2 separate regions of the Homo sapiens genome follow, and region 1 is linked to region 2. Evidence: fine-mapped expression QTL. A gene starts in region 2. The other region holds a variant in brackets. All regions are shown on one strand. Distances are between the middles of the regions.

The links.
Region 1: its variant is fine-mapped to the expression of BOP1 in whole blood (TOPMed, PIP above 0.99).

Annotation. Positions count from the first base shown.
Region 1 is chr8:144,259,750-144,269,831 of GRCh38, forward strand. It overlaps MROH1 (maestro heat like repeat family member 1), which reads left to right. Exons shown (of 44, transcript NM_032450.3): 38 at 162-308; 39 at 437-625; 40 at 928-1,083; 41 at 1,158-1,292; 42 at 1,365-1,467; 43 at 1,535-1,600; 44 at 1,906-2,177. The coding sequence ends at 1,991. BOP1 (BOP1 ribosomal biogenesis factor) reads right to left here. Exons shown (of 16, transcript NM_015201.5): 4 at 5,168-5,322; 5 at 4,965-5,082; 6 at 4,766-4,867; 7 at 4,476-4,688; 8 at 4,232-4,393; 9 at 4,082-4,162; 10 at 3,943-4,012; 11 at 3,729-3,861; 12 at 3,472-3,652; 13 at 3,104-3,392; 14 at 2,839-2,923; 15 at 2,647-2,754; 16 at 2,296-2,568. The coding sequence ends at 2,415. It overlaps SCX (scleraxis bHLH transcription factor), which reads left to right and starts at 6,704. Exons shown (of 2, transcript NM_001080514.3): 1 at 6,704-7,431; 2 at 8,355-8,732. The coding sequence starts at 6,865. The coding sequence ends at 8,393. MIR7112 (microRNA 7112) reads right to left here and starts at 2,988; the gene lies at 2,924-2,988. RefSeq lists a silencer at 6,638-6,827 and enhancers at 7,073-7,840, 7,841-8,606. The variant G/T (reference allele first, on the strand shown) is at 6,148.
Region 2 is chr8:144,287,081-144,297,162 of GRCh38, forward strand. BOP1 (BOP1 ribosomal biogenesis factor) reads right to left here and starts at 4,358. Exons shown (of 16, transcript NM_015201.5): 1 at 4,192-4,358; 2 at 2,015-2,224. The coding sequence starts at 4,290. HSF1 (heat shock transcription factor 1) reads left to right here and starts at 4,524. Exons shown (of 13, transcript NM_005526.4): 1 at 4,524-4,794. The coding sequence starts at 4,678. RefSeq lists silencers at 4,102-4,601, 4,712-4,871 and enhancers at 5,003-5,659, 5,262-5,321.

The DNA of each region.
Region 1 (10,082 bases), 27 kb before region 2:
AACAGGGAGGGGTCGCCACTGATCGGAGACCCAGGGAGTAGGTGCTCCACCTCTGTCTGCCACACCGGCGTGGGGACAGCCTCTGGTGTTCTGGGCCTGGGCTGGTGGGTTGAGCCCTGGGGTCAGCGGGGAGAGGGAAGTCACAGCACCTCTGCCTGCAGCTGCTGAACAGCAACGTGGCCAACGACCTCATGCTCTTGGACTCGCTGCTGGAGAGCCTGGCGGCTCGCCAGAAGGACACATGCGCCAGCGTGCGGAGGCTGGTGCTCCGCGGCCTGGCCAACCTGGCCTCCGGCTGCCCTGACAAGGTGGGGTGGCCACCAGCCCCTCTGGGTCCCAGGCAGCATGGGTGGGGGGCTGTGCATGGAGGCCACCCTGTCTTGTGGGGTAGCAGACGGTGACTCTGGGACCCAGGCTGAGTGTAAGGTATCCTCAGGTGCGAACCCACGGCCCCCAGCTCCTCACAGCCATGATTGGCGGGCTGGACGACGGGGACAACCCTCACAGCCCAGTGGCCCTGGAGGCCATGCTGGGCCTTGCGAGGCTGGTGCACCTGGTGGAGTCCTGGGACCTGCGCTCAGGGCTGCTGCACGTGGCCATCCGCATCCGGCCTTTCTTCGACAGTGTAGGCTGGTTGGGGCAGGGGGAGGGAAGAGGGCCCCAGCCCTTCCTGCCTCTTACTCTGAGCTTTAGCCCCAGCCCCACCCTCCTCCCTGTCTCCCACCTCGGCTAGGTGACCGTGGAGAGCGCGGACCTGCAGGGCTGCTGCTTTGCTGGGCCTGGCAGCCCCCACCCGTAAGGCCCCCACCCGTCGGGGTGTTTCCTGGCCCGGGTCAGGCAAGGGCACCCATCAATGGCAGGGGGCTAGGCAGGCAGGCCTGCAGGGGCACAGCCTGTGAGGAGACGTATGCTGCATGTCCTTCCCAGGAGAAGATGGAGTTCCGGACGGCATCTATCCGCCTCTTTGGGCACCTTAACAAGGTCTGCCACGGAGACTGTGAGGACGTCTTCCTGGACCAGGTGGTGGGCGGGCTGGCGCCCCTGCTGCTGCACCTGCAGGACCCTCAGGCCACCGTGGCCAGCGTGAGTAGCCAGGGGGTGAGTGGGATGGGGTGGGTGGCCTCAACTGGACTTGGCCCCAGTGCCGCATCCCTTAGGCCTGCAGGTTTGCCCTGCGCATGTGTGGCCCCAATCTGGCATGTGAGGAGCTCTCAGCTGCTTTCCAGAAACACCTGCAGGAGGGCCGAGCCCTGCACTTCGGGGAGTTCCTCAACACCACCTGCAAGCACCTGGTGAGGGGTGGGGCCAGGCGGGGCGTGGTGGGTGGGGCGGGGCCAGGCGGCACTGACCAGGCCTCTCCCCAGATGCACCATTTCCCAGACCTGCTGGGCCGTCTCCTGACCACCTGCCTGTTCTACTTCAAGAGCAGCTGGGAGAACGTCCGAGCTGCTGCACCCCTGTTCACCGGTAAGCACCACCCCCTGCCCCACCCCCACGCCGCCCGGCAGCCCCGCCTGATGCCCCCACTTCACAGGGTTCCTGGTGCTGCACTCGGAGCCCAGGCAGCAGCCGCAGGTGGACCTGGACCAGCTCATTGCGGGTGAGCACCCCTCCACGGGGCCCCTCCGCTGGGCCCTGCTGACCCTGTAGGCACCCGCAGGGACTAAGTGATTTTCCTGGATTTCAGGACTTTTTCCCTGTCACTGGTGACCTCATCGTCTCTAGTAATTCACGGAAACTTCTTAACTGTTCCAAAAGAGCTTAAAAAACACTAAAAAAGGAAAAACGATCTTTCCGTTGGCTCCTGAGCCTCCCAGCAGAGGCTGTCAGGAGAGCGTGGCCCACGCGCAGGCATGGGCATGCCGAGGTCACAGCCCGCAGGCAGCCCCCCTCCTCTACCCCCAGCGCTCCAGATCCTGCTGAAGGACCCGGCCCCCGAGGTGCGGACGAGGGCTGCTGAGGCCCTGGGCCGCCTGGTGAAGCTCGCCTAAGGCTCCGGCCAGCACCCCCAGCGAGGAGTATGCACCCAGACCTGTGCCTGAGCTCCAAGACAGGGCCTCCTGAGGACCACAGCCTGGGCACACGACTGGAGGGGCCTGGCCCCAGAACAGGCACTGCTGGGGACCAAACCCAAGCCCTTCAGTGAGGGATGTGCCCAATAAACTCATCTGCTCCCAGCGAGTGACTGACAGGGTGCGATGCTGAGCCTCTTAGGGGATGGGCCAGAGGGTGCCCTGGACTGGCTGTGTTGTCCCCACTGTTTTTGCAAAATTGAGTGAGGGGAAGGCTCGGCGCTGTGGTGGGGGCGGCTTTGTTGGCAACCCCAATTCAAGAAGGTGGGAGCACCAGGCAGCACAGGGTAAAGGCTCTGTTGACTTCAGCACGACCACCCCAGCCCCAGGCAGGCAGAACAGCTAGGTGAAGAGGCGGACAGTCCCGTCTGCCCCCGAGGAGAAGACCCACGGCTGGGTGGGGTGGAAGATGACGTCCAGCACTCCCAGATCTCGGGTCAGCACGTGTCCCTTCAGCACCTTGACGGGCACCAGCAAGGGGTTCTGCAGAAGGTCACTGTGGGGACGAGGAGGGCTCAGGGCACGGCCAGACACCACTGCCCTGGGGAGGGGGCCAGGCAGGGTCAGCACTCACTTGTACACCATGCCATGGCAGACGATGACACTGCCGTCGTCCGAGCCTGACGCAAAGAGTGGGTACCGCGGGTGGAAGGCCACAGCCCGCAGAGCCTTCTTGTGGTGTCTGGGGGGAGGGAACCAGGTTGAAGGCAGGCTCGGGCTGAAGGGAGGGGCTCTGCTGGCCGCCTCCACCCCCAGCTTTCCTCACCTCAGCATCCTGTATGGCTTGGTGGAAAGATCCAGGTCAAACCACACCAGCTTGCTATCGTAGCTCCCACAGATGACGTTGTCACCTAGGGCCAAAGGCTGTGATGCAGGTGTTCCCGCTCTCACCTGCAGGGTGCACTGCCCTGCCCGTCACCTACACCCCTCACCTGCAGGGTGCACTGCCCCTACCCCCACCCCTCACCTGCAGGGTACACCGCCCCCCCCCCCACCCCTCACCTGCAGGGTGCACCGCCCCCACCCCTCACCTGCAGGGTGCACCGCCAGGCTGGACACCCACTTGCAGTTGGGCATCAGCTTCTTGGTGAGCTCCTGGCGCAGCAGGTGGTAGAGGCGGACGCTGCGCTGGGACGCCACCAACAGGAAGGGCCGGGCAGGGTGGAAGGCCACTCGCTGCACCTGTCCGTGGCTGCGGCGGAACGGACTCTGGCTGCGGCGACGGCTCAGCTGGTGAATCAGCACCTGGGTGTGGCCTTGGGTGGCCAGCACCACGGCCAGGTAGTCCCCACGCCCGTGCCAGGTCACCTGCGTCACTGGCTGCAGGAGAGCAAGGCTGGCTGAGTGGCTGAGCCGGGCCCCTCCCGCTGCAGCCTCACCCCCAAGGCGCCCCACGTACCTTCCCGTGGCAGATGCGCAGCCGCAGGCCCACTTGGCGCTCCTCCTCTGAGGCCTCCAGCCAGCGGGCCGGCTGCAAGGGGGGCTCCTCAGGCGGGACGAAGGCGCTCAACAGCTGATCTGTGCTGCCCGCCACCAGCCGGTCCCCCAGAGCTGGGTTCAGCAGCAGCACCGAGTCCTCCCTGTGAGCCAGGCCCAGACACGGCCCCTAAGCACAGTGCCACCCCTGGCTCCCCAGCCCCCAGGGCCTCCACTTACACGGCTGCAGCCACCAGGCAGACAGCGGGGCTGGGGTTCCAGGCCACACTCTTCACCACGCCCCCCACGGGAACAGTCCTCACACAGCGGGCAGTGGCCACCTCCCAGAGCCGCAGGGAGCCGTCGTCAGAGCCTGGATGCGGCAGAGACAGCTCTCAACACCTGGCCATCCCACCTGCCCCCCAGCTCAAGGCTGCCCCCAGCTCGGACCCACCTGAAACCAGCCACTGGCCCCCAGGAGAGACACTGAGGCACCGGACAAGGTCACTGTGGCCCCTGTAGACCTGAGGAGGCGGCGGCAGTGAGGAGTCAGACTGGGAGGGTGCAACCCCAGCCCCCTAGTCTCCACTTACCAGGGCCTGGCACGTGGGGAAGGGCTGCAGGTCCCTCGGCCGAGGCAGCTTGGGGATGAGGTCCTCAGGGTCTACATTCACCTGGGGCAGGAGAGCGCCAGGTCAGCCTTGCCCCCTGTGCCACCCCCCTGGTGTGCCACCCCCACACACCCTCATCTTGCGCTGCCGTGGGCACAGGTACAGGTCAAGGCAGCGCTCGAAGCGTTCCTGGATGAAGCGTCCGTAGGCAGGCACGGCCCGCAGGCTCGGGAACTTGCGTGGCAAAAAGCTCAGCTTCCTCTCGCCTGGCTCCTGCTGTTCCCACGCCAAGCGCTGTGGAGACCAAGACACAGGGGTGGGGAGGGTCACAGGGAAGCATGGGGACAGGGTCCCGGCCCCCAGGATGCAGGCCCACCTCCTCCTCGCTGAGCAGGTATTCAGGGGGTGGGTTGTACGACTCGGCGTGGCCTGGCAGGGCCAGCTTGGGAGCAGGTACGTGCATCTTGTGGCGCCCGAGCACGGCGTTGGGGTCCTCCTGGGCCCACAGGTCATAGAAGCTGGGGGTGGGGTCTCGGGGCCGGCGAGGCTGGATCCAGCCCATCTTGATGGCGTGCACCATGCGAGAGACCTGCATAGACAGCCGGGTCAGGACGGGCAGTGCGGGGCGGTCAGCCCAGGCCAAGCCCCAGGGGCTGTGTGCCCCACCTTCTCCTTCTCCACCAGGGAGGGGATGAAGCTGCGCTTGTCGGCCGGGCGGTTGGTCACCGGGTGGATCATGACGTCCCCGCTGAAGAAGTCGACAGCCGGCTGGGGGAGAAGATGTGGGCGTGTGGGCCAGAGTGGCTGAGGCCCTGCTGGTGCCTCCAGGACCCCCGCCGCCCAGGGGCCAGCCCCTGCCACCTACCTCATAGGGGTTGAAGCCCACATCCCCAAACTGGCCACTCTGCAGCCGCCGCACCAGGGCCACCTGCTCATCCGTCAGTCTCAGGTCCCGCCCTGTCATCGGGTCCTGCACGGTGCGCCTGGAGACCGCCAGTCAGACCCCGCCAGCCCTGCCCCACCCCTCGGGCCCACCCCGGCTGCTGGCCCCACCCCACCAGCCCTCACCAGTAGTCAGGATCGTCCATCTTGTCCAGGAACTGGTCCAGCTCATCCCGGGTCCGCAGGGGCTTGTAGATGCGCCTGCCATCCAGGTCGTAGCCCACGTGGGGGAAGTCATCGTACCACTCCAAGGGCACGTTGCCCACCGTGTTCCGGATGTCCTGCAGCCGGGGGCCACCATGTCGGCATCTGATCCTACAAGGCCCACCCCCGCTTCGGGCCGCCCAGGGGAGCAGGTGAGGGGGTTGCAGGGGGAGTGCAGGCCCAGCCTCAAGTGCCCTGAGGTCACTGGCCCTGACCTACGCCTGTTCCCCAGCCCTGGGGTCTGACGTGGCATGGCGGCCACGCTGCCCCCACCCCCGCCCTCGGAGGCGCCGGAGCTGCACCTTCACATTTTCCACTGAAGTGGTGCCAACCCCAGAGCTCCCCCCTCACTGGATTCCTTGGCCAGGGCTCTGGGCAGCCACAGACAGGGATGACCTCATCACCCACGGGCTCCCTCCCCTGGCAGGGGCCTTAGGCAGAAGTGGGCAGCTATAAGACGGGGACTCGGGGAAGACCCCAACTGACCCATTCCACAGAGAGGCAGAAGCCAAGACCTCTCTGTGGGGGACCCCCCACCGTCTGCCCTCGGCCCCTCCCCAGGCAGAACAGCCACGTTCCTGGACGTACATTCCTGGTTGCAGCCCCTGCCAGCCGCCACCCTCGCTCCTTCCAGCCTGGGGACCGCTGCCCAGGAGGCTGCTTCCTGCAACAGTAGCCACGGGGAGGGGCCCAGGCAAGACAGAGCACAGCTGGGAGCCTGCCGGGCCCCCTGCTGCAGGAGGGACCCCTTGGGCCCTGCCCCCTGCTGAGGGTCCTTCCCTCTCCTCCCCATGGAGATAGGGGGCCATCCCCAAATTGGATAATGGGGGTATGTGTGTGCTTCCTGAGGGGCCTGGTGGCCCTGGAGAGGAACGGGGGAAGGAGGAAGGGGCAAGGAGACC[G/T]ACGGGGTGAGAGGTCCACACAGCACAAGAACAGGGGACATGGCCAGCTAGCAGAAGGCACAGTCTGTGCCAAGCCTGGAGAGGCAGGTGCAGGACAGACAGGCGGAGAGACTGAGCTCTAGGCCCCTAAATACTCGCCTGTGCCCGCCCCCTGCACACGGCCTGGCACAGGCAGGCGCTGGCGCACATGGGAGGCAAAGACAGACAGGGTGCGGTCAGGCAGCAGGGCCAGGGCGGCTGGGTTAACTCAGTTGTGCCACGGGAGAAAACGGGGTGGTGGGTTCCTCCCCTCTCCCGGGGACGGGGGGCACTGCAGTTTTGGGGCCCTGAGTAACTACAGCCCAGAAGCGACCTCCCAGTTCCTCCGCATCCCCAGAGACGGAACGATGCCCCCAAAGACCAGCCCCGCCCCCCCCACCCCCGCCAAAGCGTGGCCACAGAAGGCCGAGGGACGCGGCGGGCGCTGCTCGAGGAGCCTCCGGGCTGAGAGGGGCGGGGCGTGCGCGGGGGAGGGGCCGGGACGCCGCTATAAAGGCGCAGCTCGGGGCCCCGCTCCGGCCCGGGACGCACATGTGCGCGCGACGCCCGGCAGCTGCCACCGCGGGGCGCAGCCGAGACCCCGCGCCTCGCCCCGGCCGGCCCGCGAGGCCCGCGGCGGCCGCAGGAGGCGGCATGAGCAGCGCGCGACAGAGCTGACGCCGCGCCCCCGCCGGCCCCATGTCCTTCGCCACGCTGCGCCCGGCGCCGCCGGGCCGCTACCTGTACCCCGAGGTGAGCCCGCTGTCGGAGGACGAGGACCGCGGCAGCGACAGCTCGGGCTCCGACGAGAAACCCTGTCGCGTGCACGCGGCGCGCTGCGGCCTCCAGGGCGCCCGGCGGAGGGCGGGGGGCCGGCGGGCCGGGGGCGGGGGGCCAGGGGGCCGGCCAGGCCGTGAGCCCCGGCAGCGGCACACGGCGAACGCGCGCGAGCGAGACCGCACCAACAGCGTGAACACGGCCTTCACGGCGCTGCGCACGCTGATCCCCACCGAGCCCGCCGACCGCAAGCTCTCCAAGATTGAGACGCTGCGCCTGGCCTCCAGCTACATCTCGCACCTGGGCAACGTGCTGCTGGCGGGCGAGGCCTGCGGCGACGGACAGCCCTGCCACTCCGGGCCCGCCTTCTTCCACGCGGCGCGCGCCGGCAGCCCCCCGCCGCCGCCCCCGCCGCCTCCCGCCCGCGACGGCGAGAACACCCAGCCCAAACAGATCTGCACCTTCTGCCTCAGCAACCAGAGAAAGTTGGTGAGCACGGGCCGTGGGGCGCCGAGGGGGGCCTCCAACGCGCCCCTCAGCCCACACCTGCCAGGCAGAGGAGGCGAGGCCACACGGGCAGGGCTCCCCAACAGGGCACAGGCAGGCACACCTGTAACACAGGCCTGCCGGGGGCTGGGGCCTTCTCCTGGGGCTCCTCTCCAGGGCGTCCCTAGGACACTCGGCTCCCAGTGGAGTGTGGAGTCCCCTGCAGGGAGCTGCATGAGGGGTAAGAGCTAGGGATGGCCAAAGGGGCCCACCCAGGGCGGGGAGGCTGGGGAGCTGGACCAGGCCGCTGCAAGCTTCCCTTTTCAGTAAGTTGAAAGGCGGAGTGAAAACAGCTGAGTTCAGAAAGTAAGAGGCTGCAAGGCAAGAGAGGAAGGACCCCGGGTTCTTAGCCCCTGCGGCCCAGCACTGGCTTAAGCCATCTTGGGCACCTGCTGTCCGTCCCCCACCTAGGCCGCACACCAAGACACCAGGTCCTGTAGGGCTGCCCGAGACGTGGGCCATGGGACACGAAGGCAGAGGCTGGCAGGAGATGTGGGGGCTGGGGGTGAGGGCCCCTGCAGGAGACGCTGGCCAGCTGTGATTTACAGCTCCTGCTGTGCTTGGTGGCACCGGAAAAGCAGGGTGAGCAGGGAGAAAATACGGCACGGCTTTTCCCAATCCCCATTTCCTCTCCAGACAGCACGCGCGAGCTCCTGGGGCCTGAACATCTGGGAAATTTAATTTTACAATTTCGGCTGTGCAGCAGTATGCTCCCCTCCCCAAAACGCTTGAGGGAAGCTGGGGAGAGCCGGGAAGGAGGTGCCTTGGCGCTGGCCACCTGAGATGGCACCCAGCAGGGAGGCCAGAGAGGCGCAGACTGGCGCTGGGCTCTGCCGGGGCCTGACACTCCTCCCTCCCCTCTGCAGAGCAAGGACCGCGACAGAAAGACAGCGATTCGCAGTTAGGAGGTGGCCGGCAGCAGCCAGGAGGCAGACGCTGCTGGGGGAGGTGGACGCCCGGGGTGACTGCAGACAGCCCCCACCTTGGACCTGAGCTGGGCAAGGCCCACCGCAAGCATGCCCCCAGGCCAGCCCTGGCTGCGAGCGGGGCCGAGGGACAGACGGACGTACAGACAGGCGCCGGCAGCGGGACTCTGCGCTGGCCCCAGCACCTGCCCGGGCCCACTGGAACTTTCTGCGCTGGCTTTTCTTCCGGCCACTGTGTGATGGCATCTTGTGTTTTTGATATGATAATATAAAGTCTGAAAATTTTGTATAATTAAAAACAAAACAGTATCTTCCAAATATGGAGGCCAACTGTCCTCATGAAAGGTTCAGAATCCACCCCCAGCCCCCAGCCTGAGCCTCCATTCCCACCCTTGGTGGTCCCATCCTCCTTGGGCCAAGTACCCCGGCTCCCTGGGAAGCCCCCACTTTCCAGGCTCAGGGCCACCCCTCCCTGGGCTGAGGCGGTGAGGATGGGCTTAGCTCACCCACAGAGCCTCATATCGGGAAGCTGTGGGGTGGGGACAAGGGAGCCACGCCGGGAGAGAGGGTGGGGGAGGAGCTGCGTGGCAGAAGATGGGGAGGGCGAGGCACAAGGCAGGGACGCTGTAAGGCAGGGACAGGGAGGCAGCGGCAGGGACAGAGGCAGCAGCAGGGCAAGGGTGCCCCCGACTCGGGCCTGTCGGGCACCCGGGGGCCCTGAGGGTGAGGAGGGCGCTGCAGGTGGCCACAAGGAGTGGAGCGAGCTGTGCTGCCCAGCGGAGGGGGGGGCTCCCAGCCCCAGCGAGGGCAGTGGGTGTCCTGCCTCCACGAGCCTTGACTGGAGAGAGGGGCATCTCCTCATGCACCAGTGCCACTTGGCCCCTGGAAGCACTGCCCACGTGGGAAGGAGGACCCCTGGCCATCCTCCTCCCACCACCACGGCCCATCCAGCCCCCTGAAGACCCCGCCCACCACAGGAGGTGGGTTTAGCCCCCACAGTGCTCTGTGCACAGCTGGCTGGCCATTAAAACCCTGCAGGTGACAATTACCATTGAGTGGTGTGAGATCAGTGGGCACAGAGAGAAGAAGGGCGGTGCTGTGTGGACCACCTCCCCCCAACCCTGCCAGGCCACAGCCTAACTTCCGGCTGGGTGGACAATGGCTGATGGTGCCAGGTGCGGGCGTCAGGGCGGCGGCCGGCCCCAGTTCCCCGCTAGCACAGGCAGGGACGCACCCTCGGGGGGAGACCAGGTGCTGTGGCCCACGTGGGCATCGGTGCAGGGCTGGCCCAGGACTGCCCCTCCTCTGCAAAGACAGGCTCCAGGGAATGGCGGAGCAGGAAGCAGTGGTGTAATTTTGGAGGAAATTCTCAAAGCCAGAGCCATTAAGGGCTAGAGGGGGGCTGAGTCCAATCTGATAGAAATATAACAGGATAAAAAGTCACAACGGCAGGTTTCGTTCAGAGAGAAACCCAACCCCAAATTTCCTCTCCCTAATCCTGCAGGAGCCCACAGCTGGCCAGAGGGAGGGGAGGAGAGGACAAGCTCAGTCACTGCAGAAGCCTCCGCCCGCCGGGAAGCCAGGGCCCGGGGGACACGGACATGCAGCTAGGGGCTGACGCAGCCCCTTCCCTTCTTGGGAGCTTTCCTCACACCCCCGCCCCGCCAC
Region 2 (10,082 bases):
CTCACTGCAACCTCCGCCTCCCAGGTTCAAGTGATTCTAACGCCTCAGCCTCCCGAGTAGCTGGGATTACAGGCACGCGCCACCACGCCCAGCTAATTTTTATATTTTTAGTAGAGACAGGGTTTCACCATGTTAGCCAGGCTGGTCTTGAACTCCTGAGCTCAGGTGATCCATCCACCTTAGCCTCCCAAAGTGCTGGGATTACAGGCGTGAGCCACCACGCCCGCTGAAAGAATTTAATAAAAAAATCATTAACATGTAAATGTGTAAATCCTTAATTTAAAAAGGGACAGAAGACCCAGAAAGATGTACACCAGACCACTAACTGTGCTCACGGGTTAGGTGTGAGGGCCCTGAGTGGGAGCTTCCACCCTACTGAATGGTGCTGCTACAATATCTACATTATTTTCCAGGATGTTTTATCTCATAATTTTTTTTTGAAACAGGGTCTTGCTTGTCACCCAGGCTGGAGTGCAGTGGCTCTATCATAGCTCACTGTGACCTGGATTCCTGGGCTCAGGAGATCCTCCCACTTTGGCCTCTCGAGCTGCTGGGATTACAGGTATGAGCCACTGTGCCTGGCCCAGTATTGTATCATTTTAAAAACTCAAGAAGGGGTAACGTAGTTGTCCATAATCTTACAAACCACTGCCAACACAGCACATCATTTTTTCTCTGTGTATGTTAGTGGTATAATTAAAGCCTGAATTAAGTGTGATTTTAAATCTTTTCTTCCCAGCAAACAAGCCAACCCAACACAGCTAGCACACAATGAACAAGCCATGGTTCCTTGGCTTCTATCACGGGGACCTCTGCCAAGGCCGTAACTTCCAGAACACCGAAACTACTGGGAGAGTAAATCCTTACAAACGATTTCCAGAATGTTTAGAGTAACAAATGCTGGGCTGGGCGCGGTGGCTCACACCTGTAATCCCAGCACTTTGGGAGGCCAAGGCAGGCAGATCACTTGAGGTCAGGAGTTCGAGACCAGCCTGGCCAACATGGTGAAACCCCGTCACTACTAAACATACAAAAAAAAATTAGCCGAGCCTGGTAGTGGGCACCTGTAATCCCAGCTACTCAGGAGGCTGAGACAGGAGAATTGTTTGAACCCAGGAGGTGGAAGATGCAGTGAGCCAAGATCGCCCCACTGCACTCCAGCCTGGGCAACAGAGCAAGACTCTGTCTTAGAAAAAAAAAAAAAAAATAGGCCGGGCGTGGTGGCTCACCTGAGGTCAGGAAATCGAGACCAGCCTGGCCAACACGGCAAAACCCTGTCTCTACTAAAAGTACAAAAATTAGCCGGGCGTGATGGCATGTACCTGTAATCCCAGCTACTAGAGAGGCTGAGGCAGGAGAATTACTTGAACCCAGGGGATGGAGGTTGCAGTGAGCCAAGATCACACCACTGCACTCCAGCCTGGGCGACAGAGTGAGACTCTGTCTCAAAAAAATAAAAAATAAAAAAAAATAACAAATGCTGTGTTTTAGTTAAATTATGCTTTTCTCCTGTTGTTCTCAATAAGAGTAGGGTGCATCCTCCCCCACCATCGCTGCAACAGGTACAATGTTAAACCCTCTACCCGTCGGCTGCTCAGGCCCCTGAAGCCCTGTGGGGTCAGGCCCAGCTGGGTTCCGTTGGGGCCCCCATGCCGCCTGCTTGAGCCCTGCCATGCTGCTCAGCTCCCTCCTCAGCTGGGTCCTGCCACTGGATTCCAAGCAGTAAAATCCCCACCTCAAGGAAACCCAACCTGTTGCCAGGAGGGTTGCCCGAGCATCGTCTGACGGGGAAGGGCCTAGGCATGTGGATTTTCAGAGTTCCTGGGAACGGCACGCAACTGGGGATGGAAACCAGCGTCCTAGAGCCCAAGCGTGCCCCAGGTGCAGTGAAGGAGGGACGCCGGCCTTGGGGTTCTGAGGGACGGTGGAGAAGGCAGTACAGTGGCAGTCTCAGAAAGCCCAAGGCCACCTGCACATGGGGGACAGCCCTCGAGGGGGCTCCTCGCTCACCCACCTGCACCTGCTCCTCAGTGGTCTTTTTAATCCCACTGTGGCCCTCGTCATCAAGGGCTCCGTCCTCTCCCTCCTCGTCGCCTTCGTCATCATCCTCACTGCTGTCACTGCCGGAATCTTCCAGGCCTGAGAACACACTTTCCTCGCTGTCGGAGACGCCAGAATCGCTGCCGGTGCTGTGGCTGAGAGGAGAGGTGCAGAGGAGGGGGGGCTGCAAGGAAACACTGGGTTGGTGACAACTGCCCCTCCAGGCATGGGGCACTGAACACTGCAGGGAGAGCTGCCTCTCGCCCCTCCAGCCACCCACCAGCAGCTCCATGTGGCCTCCAGGACCACACCCCTCCAGTCACAAACTTCCACCAAAAGCATCCACCCAACCTGAGCCTTCCTCATCTTCTACCTCCACTGACAAGACAGCCTCTTGCCTTTGCCATCGACATTTTAATTCCTAGCACCTCACAGGGAAGGGGCTTTTCAAGGACAACCTCCTCCTCTTGGAGCTCAGCTCTCATCGCAAAACTAACACTGCTCTCTACCACCCACTGACACTCCGGAGGCCCTGTGGGGTCAGGCTGGGCTGGACTCCACTGGGTCCCTCAGACAGCCTGCCTGAGCCCTCTCCACACCTCACCCTGGCATCCAAGGCCCCAGAGCCAAGAGGTCACTAGAAAAGGGGCTGGGGGCTGGAAGAGAAATGGGTCCCCAAAGGGCTTTTACCACCTGAAGCAGACGCCTCCTCATTTAACCAGATTGGGACCAACGATTGATCAGTAAATTGAAAGGATTGGCTGAAGAGTCACAGGAATGATAGAGACTCTAACCGCAACCACGCACCAACCCACCCACTCCTCTCTCTGAGCAGGACCACAGCTGCCTCTGAGCAGAGCCCTGCTGGCTGCGTGACACCGGCACACACAGTGTTCGGGTCCTTCACTGGCCTTAAAGGGTGGAACAAGAACTTAGACTCTTAGGAAGCAGTTGAAGGCCAGGCACAGTGGCTCACTCCTGTAATCCCAACACTTTGGGAGGCTGAGGCGGGTGGATCACCTGAGGTCAGGAGTTCAAGACCAGCCTGGCCAACATGGTGAAACCATCTCTACTAAAAATACAAAAATTAGCTGGTGGTGGCGGGCACCTCTAATCCCAGCTACTCAGGAGGCTGAGTTAGCCAGGAGGTGGAAGCTGCAGTGAGCCAAGACTGCACCACTGCACTCTAGCCTGGGCAACAGAGCCAGGCTCTGTCTCAAAAAAAAAAAAAAGAAAAAAGAAAGAAAAGGAAAAGAAAAGAAAAAGGAAGCAGTTGAATGCAGAATTCTAGATTTTACTGTTTTCCTAATAGTTTACAAGTCTCACTTAAGGTACGACCTGCATGTATTAGCTATTGCATACCGAGTGTTCACACAATGCCTCTCTCACACAGAGTCATGATGTGTCTTGGTATTCAGTCGGCTACACAATCACAATAACTAGTGGAAATGGCATCCGTGGCCTGGGCGCAAACAACTGGCTCCTGAGGACCGTTTAGTCCAAGGGTGGAAGTCGCAGAACCTGGCGCCTAGAGTGGCCTGCGGGCCATTCAGCCCATGGGAGCCAGGATGAGTTGAATTCGCTTCACAAAGCAATGGGGCAGTTTCAACAACCCAGCGCGGCCGCGGCCGAGGGGGCTGTGAGGGGCTGGCTGTCCATCCCCTCCACCACCCAATTTGATGATCCCCACAACCAAGACAGGGCTGAGCTAGCAGAGAGCAACAGTGAGTTCTAATACAGCAAATGCAGCAGACACTGGGTTCTATTCAGGTTTTCTTATTCTCATGTCTATCCCATGAGCATAAAAACGCAATTAACTAGCGTATACGTAGGTTAAGCATTTACTGGGAGCGCAAGCCGAGCCCTTTTATTGGCAGGATGCACAAATGGAACGGCTGGAGAGGCTGCTGCAAGGGGCGCCCCGTCCCCACTCCCCGCTCCCCCGTTTCTTTGCTTCCCGGACGCCGTCCTTTACCCCGCAGTCCGCTCTGCCTGAGACCCCCCGATAGAGGAGCTGCACCCACGCCCAAGACCGATTCACTGGGCGCGGGCGCCCAGGTGACAGAAGCCGGGCCCACCCGCCCCAGCGCGGCCACGTGCCCGCCGGGCCCTCTAGGGACGCGCCCCGCCGCCCCGCATCGCCACAGTCACCTCCGGCTCGGGCTCAGGCTCCAGTTCGGGCTCAGACCGCCGCTTCTCCGGCCGCACGCTCGGCGCCGCCGTGCGCCCCGCACCCCGCGAACCCGCCATGCCCCACCGCGCGCCGGCCGCCACCCGCACAGCCGCTTCCGACAGCGACCGGGCCGCGTGCGCAGGAGGACGCGCCCCGCCCAGCCCGGCCCCGATTGGCGGGTGGAGGGAAGGGGGTGGGACCAACACGCGCAGGCGCGCGGCTGGGCCGGGGACCAGGGCGGGGTCGGGGCCTGCGTGCTCGCGCCGGGGGTGACGCGGGAGGGCGGCAGCGGCGGCGGCGGGAGCGCGCCCGTTGCAAGATGGCGGCGGCCATGCTGGGCCCCGGGGCTGTGTGTGCGCAGCGGGCGGCGGCGCGGCCCGGAAGGCTGGCGCGGCGACGGCGTTAGCCCGGCCCTCGGCCCCTCTTTGCGGCCGCTCCCTCCGCCTATTCCCTCCTTGCTCGAGATGGATCTGCCCGTGGGCCCCGGCGCGGCGGGGCCCAGCAACGTCCCGGCCTTCCTGACCAAGCTGTGGACCCTCGTGAGCGACCCGGACACCGACGCGCTCATCTGCTGGAGCCCGGTGAGGGCAGCGCGCGGGCGCGGGGCCCGTGGGGACCGGGAGGGAGCAGGGCCGCGGCGGACGGCGCGGGAGGGCTGCGGGGAGGGGCCCTGCCGCACTTCAGCTTACGCGCGGTGAGCCTGCCCTGCCCCCGCCAGAGAAGGGCGGCGGGTCCCGAGCCTGCTCAGACCCAGAGCCTTAAGTTGGGAAAGCGGCTACGAGACCCACACTCGGTTCAACCCCTGCCCCAGCGAAGTTTCCCTGGGATGGGGAGAATGGGGCGTCTCTTGTATTGGGCTTCTGCTAACTGTTGGGCGGTTGCGGAAGTGTCCGCGCTTAGGGCAAGCACCCGGCTTCGCCAGCGGACGCTATGCCCCAGAGGACATCGGCGTCCCCAGGGGACAGCCTACGGGGTGCTGGGTCGGCAACTATTAGGAGAAAGTCAGGACTTGGCACGTGAAGTGGAGGGCGTTGCTGTAGTGGAACAGGAAAGGCAGTGGAAACAGTAAGACGTCATGAAGCTTCAGGTTGATCTCAAGCCCGTTTCCGAATCCCAAATCTGGGTTTCCCAAGAGGAGTTTTGTTTTTCATTCCTTATGGGGCATCTTTATTCGTGTTTCTGTCTTCAGTTGCCTGGCAGCAGGCTTGTTTACATGGTCCGACCCTGCAAGACCGGACAGCTCCGGTTTGCAGAAGTAAATCAGTGATTGTCTGGAGTTGGAGATCAGAATCTGCTGTTCACATCCCGGCTGTGACGTCGTGTCCGGTGAGGGGCAGAGCCACCGCCTGCGGCTGGCAAGTGATGACCTGAAGAAGGGCCACACTGGCCGAGTGGGGTGACTCTTGCTTGTAATCCCAGCACTTTGGGAGGCGGAGGCGGGTGGATCACTTGAGGCCAGGAGTTCGAGACCAGCCCGGACAATATGGCAAAACCCCAGCTCTACTAAAAATACAAAAAATTTGCCGGGCGTGGTGGTGCTTGCCTGTGGTCTTAGCTACTTGGGAGGCTGAGATAGGAGGACTCCCTGGACCTGGGAGGCAGAGGTTGCACTGAACCAAGATCCCGCCACTGCAGCCTGGCAAAGAGTGAGACCCTGTCTAAGAAAAAAAAGAAAAAAAAGAAAGGCCACTGATCATTGGGAGCTTTTGGAGGCACCGTGACCGGCAGGGTGCCACCAAGCATGTGTGGCCTCCCAGGAGCTAAGACCCCAGAGTTCTTCAGGCTCTGCTGAGTGCCTCCCATTTGCACAGCCTCTTTATGCTGTTAGGAATGAAGAAAAGTCTAAACTGAAGCTGCCCCAGGCAGGAGGCCAGGTTTTCTGCTTCTTGGGTTTACTGAGGCTCTGCTTTACCTACAGAGTGTTTGGAAATAAAGAGAAGACTGGAAATCTTTGCTCTTGTTAGAAACACTTTGTGTTTGTCCCGCTGACACCTCTGTGTTGGCCTTCCCATCCCCAGGTCCCATTAAGGCACAGTGCACCTTCCTGGAGGCTGGCTTCATTTCACCATCTCTTCATTCTAGACCTTGGATTCTTGTGCAAAGGAAATACTCCCATGTTTCTGTCTTCTTTTATCCGTCTTTTTCTTTTTTCTTTTTTTTTTTTTTAGACCGAGTCTTGCTCTGTCACCCAGGTTGGAGTGCAGTGGTGCGATCTCGGCTCACTGCGACCTCCACCTCCCGGGTTCAAGCAATTCTGCCTCAGCCTCCCGAGTAGCCAGGACTACAGGTGCGTGCTGCCACACCCGGCTGATTGTTGTATTTTTAGTAGAGACGGGGTTTCACCACATTGGACAGGCTGGTCTGGAACTCCTGACCTCAAGTTATCCACCCGCCTTGGCCTCCCAAAGTGCTGGGATTACTGGTGTGAGCCACTGCACCCAGCCCTTCTTCTTTTTCTTATTCCCCTTAATCCTCAGAAGTTAAGGGGAATAACTCCCCCATTGGGGGAGGGGCATCCGCGATTATCTGGGATATTCTAAGCTTAATCCTACTAGCGTGATCTGTCCTGTCCCGTAATCTGCTTGCTGTTTCTGCTTAAAGATTATGAGGCATGTGGGTTAGGGCCCAGTGTACCCTTTTTTGGGACCGAGGCATGTTCTGGGCAGGGCTTTTGAGCAAGGAAGGCAGGTGTGATGAGGCCCGTGGCCAGCCTCCACTCCACTCACAGGTGCACCACCTGTGGATCTGTTCTCCCTGGGGAGGGATGGGGAGCCAACTGGAATGTGAGTGTTTGGTTCCACCTGGTCAGTATGAAGTGGCAATGGTTGGTGCAGGACGTAGCACTGGGGGCGAGCATGGCAATGAGACAGAAACACTGACTTAAAACTGGAAGGAAGCCCTTCTCCAGGCCGCGCAGGGGGCTGCAGAGCTTTCCGGCGCTGGCTGCCTGGCCTGGAGAAAGGAGGTGATCATCCCATCCTGTGACTTTGAGAGCACTCACACAAGCCCTGAGGACTCCCTGTCAGCAGAGTCCCAACAGGGCACCCTCCCACAAATCTACTGCCCAGGCCCAGCTGGCTCTCGGAGGCCTTGAGAAGGCCCTGGTGCTCTTGCTCTCTGCTGCCTTCTCTGGGAGAGTCTCCTTCTGGCTCAGAGTCTTACCACCATTCTGCCAAGAAAAACCCTCCCTATTTGACACAAGAAGATGAGGCAGAATCACAGGCATGGTGACTAACTCTCAAGGCTGAATAACCTGGGGGAGACCGAGGCCCAGAAACTGGCCAGTAACTTTACTGAGCCTGGCCAGGAATGGGACCAGGTCTGGACCACCATTGCACGTCCCCTCCCTGGCCTGAGATCAGGACTCCCACTGCAGCCACTGGAGGCAGAATGCCGGGTCACTGCCCAGGAGACCCCATTGGTGGGGACTGTGGCAGCTACCCCATCCCTGTGTTGTTTGATTTCCCACCCCCCCCTCCCAAGACCCTCATTCCCATGAGCACCCCACCCACACAGGCAAGGGCCTTGAGGGGACCCAGCAAGTCGTGGAGGACAGCACAGCCTTGGAGAGGAAATGTGTCAGCCACAAGGTTATGATCCCGGGGATCCACATAAGAGCATGGGCGTGCACGTGGGTGGTCCTCCCTCAGCCAGCTTCTCAACAGCTTCTCCCAAAGGTACACCTGGATCCAGTACCACTGAGACCCAAAGACGGGGTTGGGGGACTGAATACCTGGACTGACAGGCACCTCCATAGAACTGAGACCCATGAGACCCGGGACCCGCAGCCTCCCTGCCCCGTGCCCTGGTGCCGGCCCTCAGCCCAGCTTCCTCGTCTGCATGCAGCAGCTCCTCTGTCCACCAGCAGAGGCTCTTCTAGGGCCTTGCTGGGCTGCAGCTGACTCAGGAGGGCAACAGCCTCTTCAGAGAATTTGACAGCATGGAGAACCAAACAAAAGCAGAAAGTGAAGCCTCAGAACTGGGTTCACCATCATCCCAGTTTTTTACAAGCTATGATTTTGTCCCATCTTTATTAACAAGATAAGGAAGTATGAAAAGTAATCTCGACATCTGAGATGGTGAGATTACAGCCCCAGGAGCCACCCAGCTGGCTGAGGAGCCTGAGAACAAGGCACAGCCACATGACCTGTGCCAGACAAATGCTAGAATGATGGTCACGCAGGTTAGAACGAACCCAGGTAGACGGAGGCCTCAGGATCAGGGTGAGGCCAGAGGGGGCACCTGGGTGCAAAATTTAAGGAAGCACTTTTTGTTTTTTAGATAAGGTCTCGCTCTGTTGCCCAGGCTGGAGTGCAGGGCTATGATTGCAGCTCGCTGCAGCCTCTGCCTCCCAGGCTCAAGTGATCCAGTCACCTCAGCTGAGTCACTGGGACTACAGGCTTGCACCACCAGACCTGGCTTTTTTTTTTTTTTCTTTTTAAGGTTTTAGTAGAGACAGGGTCTCGCCGTATTGCCCAAGCTAGTCTGGAACTCACGGGCTCAAGCCATCCTCCCATCTCAGCCTCCCGAAGTGCTGGGATTACAGGCTTGAGCCACCGCGCCTGGCCCTGAGGCATTCCTTTTTAAGACCTACCTGCATTCGGATGGCGCTGGGAGTGGGGGCCTCCTTAGATGTGGGCTCCTGGATGCTTCTCTGTCTTCACCTGGCCCCAGCCTCATGGGTGCAGCTGGAAAGACTCTAGAAGGATGTGCTGAAACCCTGGGGCTCCCTGAGACTGAGTGAGCTGGAGGTCACCAAGGCCCTCGGCCTATCGCGGGAGAGAGTTCCATTGAAAGCCAGTGGTCAGGTGGCCGCTGTGGAGGGTCTCTGGGTGGACAATTGGGAGCAGAGTGGTCCCTGCAGTGAGGCAGGGGGCAGGGCCTGAGGGGTCCCTGAAGTAAGGCAGGGCAGGGCGTCCACTCATAAGCACACGAGGAGTTGCAGAAGCAGAGCCGACCTGGCCACGCTCAGTCACTCAGACCCTGGTCACAGATCGTGTCCGGAGCTCCCACGGCAGGCAGGGCCACCCCTGCTTCCCTGGTTCTGAGAGCCGCCAAGACCCAGCAGGCCCACTGGCCCCACCCTGGAAGATCTGGTATTTGGCCCAAGATGCTGGAGGCCCCACAGCAGCAGCTGTGAGAAGTGCTGCAGGGTCTGGAGGGCCTGATGTGTGCCCGGACCATAGTGCCTCCTGGTGTGGCCATAAGAAGGCACACAGCTGGGGCTGGTCGTGGTGGCTCACGCCTGTAATCCCAGCACTTTGGGAGGCTGAGGTGGGCGGATCACGAGATCAGGAGGTCAGGAGATTGAGACCATCCTGGCTAACATGGTGAAACCCCGTCTATATTAAAAAATACAAAAAACTAGCTGGACGTGGTGGTGGGTGCCTGTAGTCCCAGCTACTTGCGAGGCTGAGGCAGGAGAACGGCGTGAACCCAGGAGGCGGGGCTTGCAGTGAGCTGAGATCGCGCCATTGCACTCCAGCCTGGGTGACAGAGCGGGACTCCATCTCAAAAAAAAAAAAAAAGAAGGCACACATCTGTCCTCATACAGCTTCTGTGCATAGCACAGAAAAAATTAAAAAGGCTCTGTGCTGTAGCCTCCTGTGTTTCCTCTGCCCCGGATGGTGTGGTGGGGGGGGTGCGGTGAGGAGGGGCCCAGGGCACAGAAGGGCTGAGCTGCAGTGGCCTCCTGGGGGGAGGCAGATGCCTCCGGTGCCCCATGCCCACCCAACTCCACAGGCTAGTGTTTGCTCAGTCCTTTATTGAGGGACCAGGGATGGACAGCCTGGCCCTGAAAGTCTCTCAGTTTTGGAGGAGTCAGCCTGTGTGCAGGGCGAGCTGGAGAGGGGTCGGTGGGGCTCACAGT